5 separate regions of the Homo sapiens genome follow, and all the other regions are reported to be linked to region 1. Evidence: microRNA targets listed by miRTarBase, many of them from high-throughput screens and not tested one by one. Region 1 holds a microRNA gene; each other region holds the end of a gene's coding sequence.
What was found. Region 1 holds the annotated microRNA hsa-miR-3148 (UGGAAAAAACUGGUGUGUGCUU, at 2,015-2,036, opposite strand). A microRNA usually pairs through its seed, bases 2 to 8, with sites in the 3' UTR of a target mRNA and lowers its output. Matches are read on the target gene's strand: a 7mer-m8 pairs with bases 2 to 8, a 7mer-A1 pairs with bases 2 to 7 and ends in A, and an 8mer does both.

Region 1 (3,337 bases):
GAATCAGTGCATCCACACAGACATAAGTCTAAGGCAGCAGTTCTATGAAGACAGTTGTGGAACCAGGCTCACCCCTAATATCAGCATTGCCTTGGCCAAGAGTACAAATGGAGGCCCACATAGATTATACATCCAATGTATGAGTTATATATCAAGCTAGCATCACTAGTTAAAACATTGCTACTTCCACAAATATACCCAAATTCAGAATCCTTAGACTTCCAGAAATCTACTGAAAAATGGTCTCTTCCCACCTCCAGTTCCTACCACAAGCAGTCCAGTGTACAACCAAGAACGTAAGTTAAAGCTTCACCCGTGGTCCTTGAAACAGTAATGATTTGACCATCACTTGGCTCAAGTGGGCACACACAGTCAGCATACTTCACTCTAGAGAGGAAAGACCTCAGAAAGAGGGCCACAAGCCTTGGAAGTTTAATTGTGACCATTTGGGCAGAGAATTCTGAGGTCTCATGTATCAGGAATGTGTTCCAGAAGGAAGATATATGGGGTCCAGATGGTTTTATTCTCTTATCCCAAGGACTTCTTGCTTAATGGGGAGGGAAAGGAACAAAGAAGGATGAGAGTGGAGCTCTCTAAAGCATAGGGCTCAAAGCAAGAGGTCTTCTTGCCAGGATTTAGGGCAGTACTAGCGGGAATCCCAATTGCAAGACGTCAGGCAGAAAAGGAAAGATGAAGTTGTCCCATGGGGCCAGCTTGCAGAAACCCAATCATGACAGCGATTGCAAACACTGTGGGGCCAGTCTCGGTGCACCTGAGCTTTCTTTTTTCTGATGAGAAAACCCAAAGCGTTTTATTTAGCTTTCTGAGCTAATCTTATAAGAAAATAAAATTCCAGCCTCAATTGTTGAAATTGTTACTTAGGAGAAAACTAAATAGAGAAATTTGAGATTAAATTCATAAACAGGGATGTTAGTAACAAACCACTTTGTAGGAGTTAGTGAGAGACGATGAGTCATAAAGACAAATTTCAAGCAAACATTTACCCATTAAACAAGTGTCATTAGCATCCATATTATAGGTACTAGGGATATGCCAGTGAATAATTCAAAGTTCTTGCCCTTGAGGAACTTAATTATTTTAGGATCAGCACATATATGTGTGCTCACACACCACACCCACTTCACGCACACACTTGAATAGTGATAAATTCTACGATAAAATGTAAACAGAGGTGGGAGTGGTGAGTGAAGAACTCTCTGAAGCTGTGATACTTAAGCAGAGACATGAAAGAAATGAGCTTTGTACACCTCTAGGGGAAGAGCATTCCAGGCAGAAGTAACAGTAAGTGCAAAGTCCCTGGGGTAAGAATAAGCTTAGAATGATCAAAGAATAATGCAGGAAAGTATAGCTAGGTCAGGGTGTGTAAAGGGGAGACAGGTAGAAAATATGAGAGTGGAAAGGTTGGCATTGCCAGATTGTGCAATGTACCATGTGGATCTAGAATTCAAGACAAAGGTCTGGACTCCAGCTGAATATTCAGGAGTGACTAGCAAGAGGTGACAGTTAAAGCTCAAAGAAAAAAAAATTCACCCAAGAGTAAACAGAATAAAACTAATCAAATTTGAGAGGAGTCCTGGAAAGCATTGATAGTGAACATGGCAAGAGGAATCAACGATGAAGCCTGGAAATAAGTGATCCTTTCTGGAGGAATGAAGTGTACAGGAGGGTTAAATATTAAAGAGAAGTTAGTTCAACTTAAAACCACCAGAGGTCCATTGGCTTTGATGAGCAGGAAGTCACTGGGGGCCCCTGCCAAGGCAACTGCTATGCACTGGTGAGAGTAGAAGTCAAAACTCTACTTGAGTTTTGAAGTCAAAACCCTTGAGAAATGTGTTAGAAATGAGTGAGGAGATTCTGCAAATTTGGATTGGTTTTTTAAGAATCTTGGCTGTGTAGGAGGGAGAATGGATAGGGCAGCAATTTCAGGATGAATTGGGGAAAATACTGGAGTTAAGTTGGAAAAAACTGATGTATGCTTGTTGGCTACATCAATAAGCACACACCAGTTTTTTCCATCTTAACTCCAGAAAGGAGCTGAGAAAGAAAGAGACGTTTAAGGTGCATGGGAGAGGATGTTGCTGAAGCAGCCTTCTCCATTCCACACATTGCCTTCCTGTGGGAAGACTTCAATTAACATTGCTTACTCTATCTTATTTGATTGGCAAATTTAGGAAGAAAATGGCAATCTTGGCTCAAGTCTTCCCTTTGCCCTATCAGAAGTGAACCTGCCCACAGAAGGCACAAATTTGCCTCTGCTCCTCCATGATGTAATTTTGACCTGTAAAGGCTACCATACAGCACTGCTGAGAACTGACCAGTCCTGGGGTTCAGATCTCAGGTCCATTTGACAGAGACACCAAGCCACATCCTCCAACTCAGCTCTATCCATAATATTGCTGTGGCCTCTGTCTTTATTCTTTGATTCACTTCCTGAATTGTGCAGCACTGAGGTGGAAAAGACAGAAGGCTGCTTACTGGTCCTCAGTGGACTCAACATTGTGAATAATTGATTAATTAAGATATGAAGGAAAGGAAAGGAAATTTTACAAAGAAGGAGCAAACAGAAGAAATGACTTCCCATCCTCTCAAACCAAAAAGTAGGAGAGAAGCATGTGCATGGGAGACAGGAGTTGAAAGTGTTCACAGCTGATATTGTCTACTTTCTCTATGCAGCTGGAAACAAAGCTATTTGCTGAGAGTGAGAATGTTAAAGATTTGAAGCCTTGAAGAGGTTGAAACACTACTTGAGAGAATGAGAGAGAGGGGATAAAGGATAAGTAAATGTGAGGAAAGTCCCCTCATTGCAATATGTTCACAACTAAATTGCACTTGCCCCAAAAACAAAGCCAAGGGAAAAAAATGTAGAAAATGTAGGTAGAAATGGCTACATAATCAGCTTACAATTTCAACTACAATTGACAATCAGTATTCCTCCCAGGGTAGACTCTTGGGGAAAGAGCAAGGGCCTAGAAACCTGGATTTATATCCCAGAACTGCCAGTAATGAATACATTGGGTGAGCTGATGAAGAAGATAATTGCATGTGGTTGGAAGCTGCTGGCAGGGCCCTCATGACCCCTCCCTCCTGGTGTCCACTCCTTTGTGTAACTCCCTCCTCTTGTATGTGAGCTTGACCTAATGACTCACTTCTAAAGAACTGAGTCCAGCAAGAGTAATGGGATGTCACTTCTGGTATTAGGTTACAAAAAACTGACTTCTGTCTTTATCCACGCTCTCACTCTCTCCATGTTTGCTCTGATGAGGCAAGTTGAAGAGGTACACATGGTGGGGAACTGAGGGTGACCTCCACCTGACTA
Region 2 (3,337 bases), not on the chromosome of region 1:
ACACTGCTCCCCGTGGCCCCATCCCTCCCTGTTCACAGCTGTGACCCTCACACATGACCCCTCCACTTCGGCGTGCCCCTCCTCACCTCGCCTGCTAAGGGTGGGCTCTTGGACTCGCTGCTATAGGACAGAGGGTCCTGCGTAGCCCACATCCTGGGCACCCAGCTGCCCTCAGGGGCCTGGCCTGTCTGGCCACTGCCGTGTCTGTGGTGGCCCCAGGAGGCTGTCCTCTGCCCAGGGCTCTTAAGACAGAGCATACCCCCTGACCCCGCAGCTGCCTTCTCCCTGAGGTGGCCCTGGCTGGGGCGTCTCCCTGACCCTGTCTCTGTAGCTGGTGGCCGGGCGGCCTGAGATGCTGAGTCCTGCCCGGAAGGCCCTCCGGCTCCCCAGCTGGCCCAGCCTGGGCAGGGGCCTCCTGAGCCCGTCATTGTTCTGGCCCTGCAGGTGATCTTCCAGCTCCGCGCCAAGCAGTGTGTGGCCTGCCGGGAGCGGGCCCACGGTGCTGTCCTGCGGCCCTGTCAGCACCACATCCTCTGTGAGCCGTGTGCGGCCACCGCACCTGAGTGCCCCTACTGCAAGGGCCAGCCCCTGCAGTGGTGACCTCAGCGGGGACAGCCACCTCCTGCTGGGCACCCTGGCTCCAGCGCTCCTCCTGACCACGGACATGTCGTCACTCGCTTCTGGTGCCACCGACGTGAGGACCGAGGCTGGGAGCCCTTCCTGTTACACGTTATCATGAGGCTGGGAGCCCCGCCTGCGCTTGGCCTGACAGCCTTTCCTGTCACACGTTGTCACCTATCTAGTCCTACCGACGGTTTCAAGGTATTTTCCTCAAAAACCTTAAATGCAAACCCACAGAACCCGCCTGCCTGTCCCTGAGGGGCCTGGTGCCTCCGGGATCCACGCGGCGCTGTGATCACAGCAGTTTGTGGTCCTGACACTACTGTGACTAGGCCACTGGGAGCTGGGGTCTTTCAAAGCACTTTGTAAACCGAGGAATTTAGTTAGAGGTTATAAATTGCTCTAAGCTGCTTTCTGTTTTTTTTTAATATGCGATAATATGAAGCTTTATATGTGTACTGTGAACTTAAATATTTCATATCAGTTTATTGTCAATTCATAGTATGCTAAATATATTAGATTTCATATTCTGAAACTAGTACTTATGAAATGAGTGTTTATCTAGTAGTAAGACCTAGGATTTTTACATTTTCCAATTAAGTGCAAATAGTATTTATAAGCAGAGTGATTATGGATTGAGATGTTTTTAACTTGATGGAAGGAGCTAGTTTTCCTGAGCCTGTGTGTGCACCAGGCACTGGGGCTGATGTTCCAGCCTCGTGGCGTGGGAGCAGGAGAGCTCCGTCCTGCATTTCTGTGGTCCGTGGCCGCTGTTTCTGTGCGCCTGCGCCTCGGAGAGCAAGTGAAGGAGCATCATGGGTTTTGTTTTCTCCCTTAACCCTCTGAAAGACAGTTTGATACTAACAAAAAACGCAGCAGAGGGGATCCGACGTCAGAGCTTTTAGAATTACTTTTTTAAGCAGCTGTCTTCTGGCTGGGTGCGGTGGCTCATGCCTGTGATCCCAGCACTTTGGGAGGCGGGTGGATCACCTAAGGTCAGGAGTTCAAGACCAGCCTGGCCAACATGGTGCAACCCCGTCTTAGTAAAAATACAAAAATTGGCCTGGCGTGAGAGCGGGCACCTGTAGTCCCAGCTACTCGGGAGGCTGAGGCAGGAGAATCGCTTGAACCTGGGAGGCAGAGGTTGCAGTGAGCCGAGATCGCGCCACCGCACTCCAGCCCGGGTGACAGAGCGAGACTCTGGCTCAAAAAAAAAAAAAAAAAGCTGTTTTCTGATTACTCAGAGCTGTCCTAGGCAATGGTGCTTTGTAGCTCCTTGGAGATGTCGCTGGGCGTCCTGGCAGGGGTCAGGCAGTGAACTGGGAGAGTGGTTGCCTCCCCAGCACCCGTGACCACCCTGGTCCTGCTCGTGTGGGAGATGCTCGGGCCGTGTGTGCGCCAGGGTCCGGGGTGCCGGGTGTATGTGGCAGTCACCTGACCCGCGCTGCCAGTTATCATCGGAGCTCATCCATGTGGCCAGTGAGGTCACAGGAGAGGACCCGGCCACAGCCTCTCAGTGGCCTGGAGCACACGGGGGAAGCGACCCCCCCCAGGTCCCGGCTCTGCTGTGGTCCCCTGTCCCGTCTGCCCCTGGAGCGACAGTGTGGTTTCGGCCGCAGCAGAAACGTGACTGAGAACGCATCCCCGCGATGACCTGACCCTTCTGCTCAGGGCTGGGACTGTCCCTAGGAGTTGAGCAGGAACAGGCATCTGTGGTTTACGGCGACCTGGCTCTCCGCGGGCCACGTGGGTGGTGAGGGCACACGAGTGGGAAGCGGCACCGACGTGTTTCTCCCCGACCGTGGCTTTGCCAAAGACTTTTAATAGCATTTTTTAAGTGCAAAACGTCTAGGTAAAAATCTTTATCATCAGTGACCAAATTAGAATGTATTTAATATAGTAGGTGGTTTAAGAACTGTTTTAACGTAAGACAAACTGATAGCAACATTCTGTTGTTTTAAAGGAAGTGGGTCCGTGACATTCTGCAGCTAGTCCACTACTCCAAGGTAACTATCGACTTGGTTTCAGTGAATCTATTTTGTTTTTAACTACAGTGATTTATTAGCTCAGTATCTAGAAATTACGTATATTTTGTGCTACTGTCATCGATGTGTAAACTCTGTTTTTATTTGTATTTATGCACTTGGTTCCCATTTGGAGCCTCTGGTCTTTTCTGGGATAAGTGGTGTCTGCCGAGACATCTCCCGGTTGTCAGTGGTCAGGAGCAGCTGAGCTCTAGTCTGCCAGCTGCTCTGCTCTTTCTGGGAAGGAGGTGGCGCCCGCCCCTCAGGGTGTCTCCAGGGCTCAGCTTCCGGGGTGGTAGAGCTGGGGAGCCCCAGGGGTGGGGGGACAGCTGGGAGATGGAGGTGGCACCTGCTCCCCTAGATCAGTACTGGCTCTGAGGACAGGTGAGCAGTGGGAAGACCAAAGAATGGCTGGCAGCGCTGCCAGGGTTGGAAATGGGGGCAAGATCCTGGGGCTGTGTGCCCTGGGGCCTCCCTCACCTGTCTTGGTGGCCATGGCCTCAGGGATGGCTCCTAGGTGGCTGAGGCACAGCAGTGGCTGGAAGGTGCCCCGTGGAGGCTGAGGTGGAGGCGCGCCCAGCAGCTCCCCCCTGTGGCCATGGCGGGCACGGGGCGTAGGAGCTGGCTGGCGGCCGGCTCTGCATGTTCTTGTTGCCTGTCGTCTGTAACTCTAGTGTTCGACATTCGCCGTG
Region 3 (3,337 bases), not on the chromosome of region 1:
TGGATGTTGAAGATGGATTCCCTAGGTGATTTTAATTTCTTCCGGTCTGTGCTGTGCACAGTCTACATGGCAATGCGGTTCCACCACATCGGTTTCGTGGCTTCGTTTAAAACTCAGATGGCTAGATTAGTTAGGTTTTCAAATCACTAGGATGTAAACAGTAAGCAGATTTCTGACACACAAATTATGTTAGAGTGACTGCTTTTTTCAGACAGCAGATATCTTATAGAGAGCTTTGAACTGCATTTATTTCTAAAGCAACCGAAATTCAGTGCTACAAATAGAGGATTATAACTTCAGGAGAAGAATAAGCAGAAGGAGCAGATGAACTCTCAGGGCCATAGTCTTCCTTTGATCTTGTAAAACTTCCATTGACATCTGGAGTTCCCAGTCTGGTGAGAAAATAGACTATAAACTGAATGGAACAAAGATCCAATCCAATATTTTGGTGGAGACTTCTTTAAAACCATACCATACAGGGACTCTCCTGTCATCTGAAAAACTGATGTAAGGTACAGAACTATTCTTTATCAAATGTTTTTAGGTGGCTGTTAGGGGGCTTTAAAAAATATTACTTGCTTGTGTGGAAATGCAAATAATGTTATTTTCTTTATCTAAATTAAGAAATCTCTTGTTATTGTGCTATTTATAATTTTTTTCTGGTTCTTGTATTTTAAAAAATCTAATATTAATGGTATTGAAGTTTCCTTTTCTCCCTCTAGGTCTTAACAGTGAATTCACATGGAGTAATTTTTAAAAGATATCAGATACAATTTGCTATTCAAAGAAAATTATGATTTAAAGCCACTTTTTAAAATACGAGAAGGAAAATAGGATGGATTAAAGGGTTAACTTTTAAAGATTATTATTGGTTAATGTTGACATATTTCCTCTATCTCATAGATGGTAAAAGTGTTGCTTTTAAACTGGCAAATGCACTCTTCAGAAATCCTTTTCTATCTGATCCACATGGAGAGGTTAAAGGTTCAATTTCATGACCTCTATGCAGGCAGCGCTCTCATTGGATGTAAGAATATTACCTGCAAGGATAGAATGCAGTTGTGCAACAGAGACACATTCTTATTTCTTTTTTTTCACAATTTTGTTTTGTTTTTAATGACCCTTTTATTGAATATTGGACTGAAATATAAATTTTAAAAAACACGTTGGAAAGGATGTACAACAGAAGGCTATGTATGTATATACAGTATGTCAAAAGCCTTTTATTTTTATACTTCAAATGCTCTAAATTAATAAAAAGTAATAATTACCATGTTATCTTTTACTTTTTATTTTCAAAATGCTTTAGTGAAATAGCCCCGTAGTAGAAATAGCCCACGGTAGTAACTTAGGACAGGTGTCATATGGACTTTCAGTTATTCTTGTTGACTTTACTGAATCAGCATCATCTCTGGATGCAGATATAAAATCAAGTTTGGTTACATCAAGACCAAGGAGATATTTTTGTTGATACATGTTAGTATAGTAATCCTTAGAAATGCTAAGTGTATTTCTTTTTCAGAACATTTCCCCTTCATCATACATATTTTAATACTGCAGACAGCTGACTTCCCACCTGAAGTTGTCGTTTAAAACTAATAACCTGAAAATGCAGTTCTGTTCTATACATTCTTCCTAAAAATGGCACAGGTAGGCATGCTGAATAAAGGTATTTGGATGCAAATACTGATGGCTGACAAATGGGTCCAAAGGTGTTTCCAATTTGTGATTTAACATGACAATATCTCATCAACAAAACTTATCTTCAAAGAGAACTATGTGGAGGAAAGTAAATTTTATTTCATGTTTCCTACTTGTGTTAGAAGAGATTTGGAATACCTTGATTTAAACATGCTTAAACAACAGTGTTTTAACATTCTGTTTTAAACAATGTTTTAAAATACCTATTTATTATCTTACAGCAATATGAGATATAAAGTAGATGTAGGAAAATAGAGCTGATATGTGCATAGTTACTAAAAAAAACCAACAGATTTACATTTTAACATAGTATTCATAAAATTAAACATTCTTAAAAGGTCATTTTAGTGCACTTTAAAAAATTTTTCTTGTGCTCTTTAAATATTATTTATGGAATAATTTAATTCATTATAAAAACTGCTTAAATTTTGGCTTAACTTTTTTTTAATCCAGTCTTTGAATAATTTGATTTATTTTCAATAGTTTAAGCATTTCTAGACCTCTTAGGAAAAATGCTGATCAATACAATGAATTTTCATTGTGAAGCATTGAAGAGGAACACAGGAGACAAAGTTTCTATTTATTTTATGAAATAAATATATGATTTCTATGCTATTTTTCTATATTCACTTTAAATACCTCATTGTTTCATATTATTTTTTTCTTCTCACAGTTTTATTTATACAGCCAAAACTATAATCTCAAGTTGCCTATAGACATTTTTTAAAGTATTAAAATAGATTTTGTTCTTGAACAGTTTTCTCCTTCATAATTATACACCTGGCCGATCGATAGTCTCTCTTCTTCATGGTGCTGCATAGCAAATATCCATTATCTCAAGGGGGAAAAACACTTCATAGGCAATCACCAGTTCTCTTGAAGCCATGAATAGGTGTATTCATAAACCAGCAGCATCACTGCACCACCTAGAAAAGAAAAGAGCTGTTTTTTATTGCAAATCCTCTGGAATAGCACTGGCTTTCCCACTGGGTTTCTGAATCCATGATGTCTCGCACAGCCTGTCAGGCAGAGGCTGTTCGGAATCAACAGTTCTGGAGCTTCAATACCAAGATATAAACTACTGTGGAAAATTCTCAGGATAAAATCAAGACCATCTTGAGTCTCCAAATACATTTTTCCCCATGAGTTTTTGCAACTTTCATCATTTGTCATCAGATTCTTTTTCAAGCACTTTCAATTTTTAAAAGTAAATAAATATAGGCATATTTAGTCATGTAAGGGCATGTGGCTTTCCTGTGAACAGAAACCTTCAGATTCTTCATGTGTAGATAAAGGATTTATCTTTTTCAGTCCGTAATTAGCAGTCTTAATTGCATTCAAGAAGAAAATCTCTAAGATGGTGCTTGATGGATGAGTCTAGTTTTCTGTCATAGCTTTCAAACTGCATTGCTACGTGGAAATTAGATTCTGAATATTTAAAAAATCTGCATTGCAAAACCTAACAAAAGGAGGTTGAAAGCTAACCTTCATTCCTTTTATCTGCTTCAGTTGTATATGGATTTGAACTTGAAAATTTGGTAGTGGGGGTTGGATGGCATGAGACCACCATTTGTCTTGGAAGAAAAGAGCTACATAACTGGCTGTGAAGAGACATGCTCTGTATTATGTCAACAGG
Region 4 (3,337 bases), not on the chromosome of region 1:
TAAGGTACTGTTCTCTCTGAATAGTCTGGGGTAATAAATTAATGTATTGTTTCTTGTTATTATGTTTAAACCATTTCATTGTAATGCTGTAATAATTTCACTTGACTAATTGGGTGCAGAGGAAAATACAACTTTTTGAAGTTGGCTAAGAAGTTCTTTATTTTTGGTTTAAATTAGCATAATTATCTCTTCTGCTTGGAGAAGAAAAGGAAAACCTATATTAAGAAAATGTTTAAATACAATTATTGTGTGTCAGTTTGGTGGCTAATATTCTTGATCTTAGGAATCATGACTACAATCTAGTATTTTTATGTTTGATTAATGTTGAGATTAAGAGCTGCTGGAAATGAATGCGTAGGTTGCTACTTACCTTCTCCCACTTTTTTGTGCCTCTGTAGGTACATGGACTATATCGCACAACAGGTGCTAGTTTTGAGAAGGCCCAACAGGAGTTTGCAACAGGTGTGATGTCCAACAAAACTGTCCAGACCGCAGCTGCAAATGCAGCTTCAACTGCAGCATCTAGTGCAGCTCAGAATGCTTTCAAGGGTAACCAGATTTAAGAATCTTCAAACAATACACTGTTACCTTTTGACTGTACCTTTTTCTCCAGTTACTGTATTCTACAAATATTTTTATGTTCAAAACACACAGTACAGACAGCATGGATATTTCCTGTTCACTTGTGCATGGGCTAAAACCAGGAAAACTTCCTTGTCTTATTACTTTACCTAATAGTTTCTTAATATTTCAGTGCCCCTTGCAGAAAAAATATTACATGCTAAATAAATATTCTCCATATTTTTGGGGGATGACATTCAGTGAATTATTTCAGTGGTGACCCACTGAAAATTAATAATGGTACTTATGATTAAAAACGCATTTAATACTAACTGCAGTAGTTCTTTCAAGAATCTTTAGAGATAAGGATTGCACATTGGAAAAGTAAACCATGTTTCATTCCTTTTTCCCTATTTATATTGAAAGAAATAGGCCAGCAGAGACTTAGGGATTTTAAATTGGCTTGCTTTTTAGCTGTTTCAGTCACCAGTGAAGAGCCTATGTGCATTTTGTAGTAGATAATGTAAAATTTGTCATCTTTTTCTTTTCTTTTTTTTAGAATAGCTGATATTTTGATAACAATCTCTAATTTGCATGGGCACCACATTTCTTATATTAAAAGAATTAGTGTTTTGGCTTCTGTACTGCTTATGGTTGTAGGATTCAGGGGTTAATGGAATCACAGAAATGATATTCTGCAAGAATTTCTTTTAAATAAAAAGTTTGGGGGTGCAATATAAGAAGTTTATATAATATGCAGTACATTATCCAAAAGAGAAGGTAGTTAATGCAGTAGAAAGTAGTGGTAATAATTCCTTTTTAAAAAAATTTCGGTAGTCATATAGTAACATTTTGCTATATGAAAACTTTGGTATATTCTGTGGTTACAACTAAGATTGTGTCTGGCAGCTCTTTTTTGGGGATGTGTGTGTGTGATTTTTAACAGAGGTATTAAAGGCTAGCCTAACTGTTGTCTAAAAAGATTGTACAGTATTTAAGGGATTTTCCTTTTAGCTTTTCATCTCCAGTGGCATTAAACATAAAAAGACCCTGGCATTTTTTCACATACTTGAATCCCTAAATGCACCTGTCTTTCACTTTTTGAGACAGACTGAATATATCTAAAATTTCCAGCAATAAAAAAAAAAGCATTTAACTTGCACCAAGCAAGAAAATATAAATACAGTTAACTGCATTAAGATAATCACGTTAAAATTGTTACTATGCAGCACAGAACTTCATTCTTATAGTATTCTTGGGTTCAACCTTTGAATCAATTTTACCACTGATTAAATAAATGACTCAAAGACATCTGTAAGTCATGCTGCTGTGTTTTGAAAGTCTTTAACTAAATTAAGATTGCAGAATGATAGTGATTATTCAATTAGATTTTAAGTAAGGATTGTGATATTAGAGGCTGGAAATCCTTATTTTTTAAAAAATCAGATAGGCATAAATAGTTAAATCACTTTCATTCTCCCCAAACCTGTAGTTACAGAAAAAGTTTTATGCTAGAGGTGGGATGCCAAGTTTTCACTATCCATGAAGCAGCGCTGCATGTCACTAGGTAACACAGATCCATCCAGATGGTGTTTACATTTGATTTATTTGGGATCTTATTGACATCAGGTATACTTGGAAGACATTTCTTTTATTCTTCAGCGTATGAATTTAAAGCTATTTTTTGTAAATATTTCTAATCAGCGATAATTTCTACCTATGTTCTCAACCAACTTAGCCAGTTTGTTTTTCAGAGCCTGTAGTCTTATTGGAAATCTATTTTATCAGTGTGCTTTATTGAGTGTGGATTTTGCATACATTCAAAACATTAACCACAAAATACAGCAAGTGCACCTATATTCACCATTAACTTATATCCCAAGTCCATTTTTTCCTGTACACTACAAACAAAAGATATATTAGAGACTTTTGAAAAATGCTGAAATACTTTGCTTCAGAATTGGAATGTTTATATTATGTAGAAATCTTCAAAGGTAGCATTATTAAATAGCAAAGAATAATTAGAACCCACATATCTTTTTTTGTGTGGATGGGGAAAATGTTTTAAAATCCAGTTATTTAATATGAGTTTGAGAGAGAAAATTGTTTTTTAAAAATATATGTGCATTGAAATGATGGCAATGCTTATAGTATGATCAAGTATGAAAGGAACTTTAAATTCTTATATTTACTTTTCTCTCAGTAAATTGTTAAATTTTCACTCAGCAAAAGATTGGCATTTGTTAAGTGTTCTATATTTAGTACTAAAATCACAGTCATGAAATCATAGTCATAAAATGGTCTTCACACAGCAGTCATCCGTGTCATTTATCATTTTGTAATATTAAATTATGGCAATTTTATTTCAAACTAAAGTTTGAACACCGGAAAGTCATTACTCAGTGATTTGTAATTTGGGACTTGGATTATTTATCTAGAGATGTTTGTATATTTTGTCAGTAACTAATACTGCGCTGCCATCATGGTGACTGTCATGGTTCTACAGAAATGCCCTCCATGTGTCCCTCTAATGTTGCATGTTTCAGTGGGTTGGAAGTTTTGTATATTTATTGTATTAACACAGAGTGTCATAAAATAAAATGCTGTTTACTGGATGTTTGTTTGTATAATTTTGAACACTATAATAGCAATTCAGAGACAGACATTGTTAAAGGTTTGATGTATATAGAAATTCCATGTTTGATTTTTTAAAATATGTGTATAAGTCTGTCATGTGCTAAACAAAATAATATGAAAGACCTAGTTAAAAATTCTA
Region 5 (3,337 bases), not on the chromosome of region 1:
AGGCTGTAGTAACACTTCACAGGTAAAGGCTAAGTTCTGGGACATGAAAGCTTTTAGAAAATTCACAAAACAAACCTGAGACATCTTTTTGTTTTGGAAAAAAGCAATTTGCTTATAGAGTCAAAGCTTTGACATACAAATGAAGCATTTAATAAACATTATACTTTATTGCAATAACCTGGAGTAAAACTTCTGACTTTAATGGTTGTCAGCAAATACATTCTCTCTCCGGTAGAAACACAATGAGGGTTTCTGATTAAAGCAGTAATCTGATTACTCCAGCCTCCAAATTCAGTTATTTTCATTCGTTTTTTGTTTTCTTTTCCTTTCTTTAACTAGGTTATAAGCATATTAAATAAGCCAGGTAAACTCCAAGCACCTTACTTTCTTCCATATAAACACAGCTTTCCTTTTGCCGCAAGCATCTGATGACGACTGGGCCTACATACGTAAAAACAGATTATAGCACATCTGGACCTGGTTGACATAATGAGGCATCCAGATTGGTTCATGATTATTTTTGCAGCTACACATTTCTCAATCTAAAAAAATAGGCTACAGCAGCCCAAATTCACTGTCTCAGCCTTGGTGGGGCATAATATTTTGGAATGGCAAGTGCCAAAAAATTTAAATGTACTGGGCAAGCCTGCTTTGTGTAGTTGACTCTAATGCCTTTAAAAATACTGGCATGATTTTTTATATTCAAGAAGTACAGCTATGAAATTTTAAAATAAAATTACATGAAGTTTTTTAATATTCCAAACCACAAAACAGATCTGCTATGTTGTAGACTTTTTTAATAGCCTATTTGAGATTTAACTCTGCTACGCCAAACATCTTTCTTCTAAATGTCCATGCTTTGAATTTTGTGCTCCAAATTAATTAATTCAGAATGAGTGGGAAAATGTTTAACCATCTTTCCTTCTTTTCAGTGTTTCTCTCTTTTCTCTTACCATCCCCCCACCCCACACACACATACACACAACTATCAAAAACTCCCTTTTTTAAAATTTTGGTACAAAGATTCCAAAAAGCTTAATAAAATGTAATAAGCACTTAGCACTTAGGACACTGTAGAACTTTCTTTGGAAGTTTAATTGCAATGAACTTTAAAACTTGAAACTTCAATTCACTTTTCTAAATGTGAATGCATACATTTCATTTGAGCTTTATGCTTTCCCAGCTACCAAAGTAATTGCCATCTTAAAAAACACAACTGACCTCATCTCCACTGTCTTTTCCAAACAGCTTCCAAGACTATCTTCTGATTCTGACTTTCCAAAAAGCAGGCATTAATGTTAACTTTCAAAAAATCATCTAGAAGAGAAACTTGGTCAGTTGTAATGGGAGTTCTGTCCCCAACTCTTGTCACCTCGTAAAAAGAACATCCAGGTAATTCATGGCATTTTCCATTATTCATTGGGCAGACACAGCTTAGATTTCTCTGCCTTCCACAGGAGAATGTTCAGATTTCCACTAACTTCAACTGGAACTCAATAATCAGAATGGCTTTAAAATTTAGTTAAAATTTAAGCATGCCATGAATTTGGAATTTTAATATATTAATTAGGTTATTTTCAAAACAAGATTCTGTATTATAAATAGAATTTCAATAAAGATGTTATAAAAATAAGAACACATCTTAGGATCTAATTTTGAGATTCGCCAAAATTTGAGTGAAGAAAAGAAACCCTGCTTCATTTCCATGTCAAAAATAGGTGGTTGATTTAATCAAGCTCATTTTTAGCACACTTGGTTGCGTTAGTTGTACTTTTCAATTTTCAATATTATACAAGGCATATATTATTCAACCTTTTCCTGAACAAGATAATACTAATATACTGCTTACGGACAGTTAAGTAATATATTTCACACTATTTGGTGACTTTTTTTTTTAACCTATGAGACTTACTGAAATCAGTACATTATGGTCACATAATTTAAAGCTTGGCTGGCTTTTTTTTTTTTCTTTGCTGATAATTCAAATTCTGTACTTTGGCAAGCAAAAGAGGTACAACATCACCTTGGAGTTTTACAATTTAATAATGCATACTTTAAAATTCATGATAACTCATGGAACCCCACTATACTCACTAATTCAACTATTGATTTCTTTTTGAGCAACTGACTTTATGATTTATCCTTAAAAGTAAGGAAGTATACCAGAAGGCAAAAGGATAAATCCACCCATAAATACTAGAGTCTAAGTTATTTTCCTGAAAAGGTGAAAAGGGAATTTCTGGTCTTTATCTTTTCCCTTATCACCTTCAATCACACACTTTACACTGAAATTACTTGTCTCTGTCTCTTCAACAATATACTCTGAAACTTTGTTTAATATACTTTTTGTCTATTTCTGCATATGGGAGACCAATCTTGGATTCCCACCAAAAATGGCCTGGTTACCAAAATACTGCTTCATTCAGTAGTTTGGTGTAAGTGTTTGGGTGTATGTGTCTATATGTGCATTTTAACTCCAAAGAATGCTACCTTCAGAAATAACCAAGATGCAGTATGTATATAATAATTCATTGGGCCCTTTAAGTCTTTGACTCAAAAAAATCTCCCAGAAGCTCCTGCATAGCCCACTACTCATGAAGAACCGCTGGGTATGGAGCACACCTCACCTGATGGACAGTTGATTTATGCTCACCTTAAACGCTAATTGAGAAGCAGCACAAAAGAGGAACTGGAAAAAAACTGAATTTTACTCCTCATCTCCGAAGATGTGAATATTTCTAAAATTTCAGCTTGCCTCTTGCTTCTTATTGGCAAGTTTCCTTGGCTTGTAAATTTTGGACAGCACTATCAAGGAGCTCCATGGACTCTCTGAGAGTGACATTGACTTTAAATGACTTGGGTTTAATGGTTAGACCATAACTGAAATTCATTTTCGCAGGCTCATTTGGGTTGGCCCTGAAATCGCACTGGTGAGCCAGGATGGAGATGAAGAGAAAAAGCTGCATCTTAGAAAGTTCTTCGCCAATGCACCGCCTTTTGCCCACTGAAAAAATCATCACTCTGCTGGTCAGGTCCTTGTTGATGAGGCCATCCTTGTCCAAGAATCGAGCTGGATCAAAGTTCTCCGGGTTAGGCCACTTCAGTGGGTCATGATTCACAGACCACTGGTTGACAAAAACCACAGTGTCCTTGGGAATGTGGTAGCCCAAGACAGAGGTGTTGGCAGTGGTGGCATGAGGAATAGTGACAGGCACAAAGCTGGAGAAGCGCATGGCTTCATAAAGGAAGGCCAGGACATAGGGCAGGTTGGGCTGGTCACCCATACAAGGCAGACGGTCCCTCCCCACGACCTGATCCAATTCTGCCTGCACTCGAG

Region 2: miRTarBase lists UNKL as a target of hsa-miR-3148. Seed matches in the 3' UTR shown: 7mer-A1 at 1,210-1,216.
Region 3: the mRNA of SLC25A21 is a reported target of hsa-miR-3148. Seed matches in the 3' UTR shown: 7mer-m8 at 2,545-2,551 and 7mer-m8 at 2,208-2,214.
Region 4: the mRNA of SCAMP1 is a reported target of hsa-miR-3148. Seed matches in the 3' UTR shown: 7mer-m8 at 965-971 and 7mer-m8 at 2,450-2,456.
Region 5: the mRNA of CYP1B1 is a reported target of hsa-miR-3148. Seed matches in the 3' UTR shown: 8mer at 2,691-2,698 and 8mer at 95-102.

The regions. Positions count from the first base shown.
Region 1 is chr8:29,955,304-29,958,640 of GRCh38, forward strand. It overlaps MIR3148 (microRNA 3148), which reads right to left and starts at 2,045; the gene lies at 1,969-2,045.
Region 2 is chr16:1,363,503-1,366,839 of GRCh38, reverse strand. It overlaps UNKL (unk like zinc finger), which reads left to right. Exons shown (of 15, transcript NM_001372107.1): 15 at 445-3,337. The coding sequence ends at 600. It overlaps GNPTG (N-acetylglucosamine-1-phosphate transferase subunit gamma), which reads right to left. Exons shown (of 11, transcript NM_032520.5): 11 at 2,727-3,337. Among named protein-coding and RNA genes, the nearest start is that of GNPTG, 13 kb to the right of the region's middle.
Region 3 is chr14:36,678,093-36,681,429 of GRCh38, forward strand. It overlaps SLC25A21 (solute carrier family 25 member 21), which reads right to left. Exons shown (of 10, transcript NM_030631.4): 10 at 1-2,627. The coding sequence ends at 2,566. PAX9 (paired box 9) reads left to right here. Exons shown (of 4, transcript NM_001372076.1): 4 at 1-1,270. Among named protein-coding and RNA genes, the nearest start is that of PAX9, 18 kb to the left of the region's middle.
Region 4 is chr5:78,475,106-78,478,442 of GRCh38, forward strand. It overlaps SCAMP1 (secretory carrier membrane protein 1), which reads left to right. Exons shown (of 9, transcript NM_004866.6): 9 at 399-3,337. The coding sequence ends at 563. Among named protein-coding and RNA genes, the nearest start is that of SCAMP1, 120 kb to the left of the region's middle.
Region 5 is chr2:38,067,957-38,071,293 of GRCh38, forward strand. It overlaps CYP1B1 (cytochrome P450 family 1 subfamily B member 1), which reads right to left. Exons shown (of 3, transcript NM_000104.4): 3 at 1-3,337. The coding sequence ends at 2,766. Among named protein-coding and RNA genes, the nearest start is that of CYP1B1, 6.5 kb to the right of the region's middle. RefSeq lists an enhancer at 2,968-3,112 and a cis regulatory region at 3,040.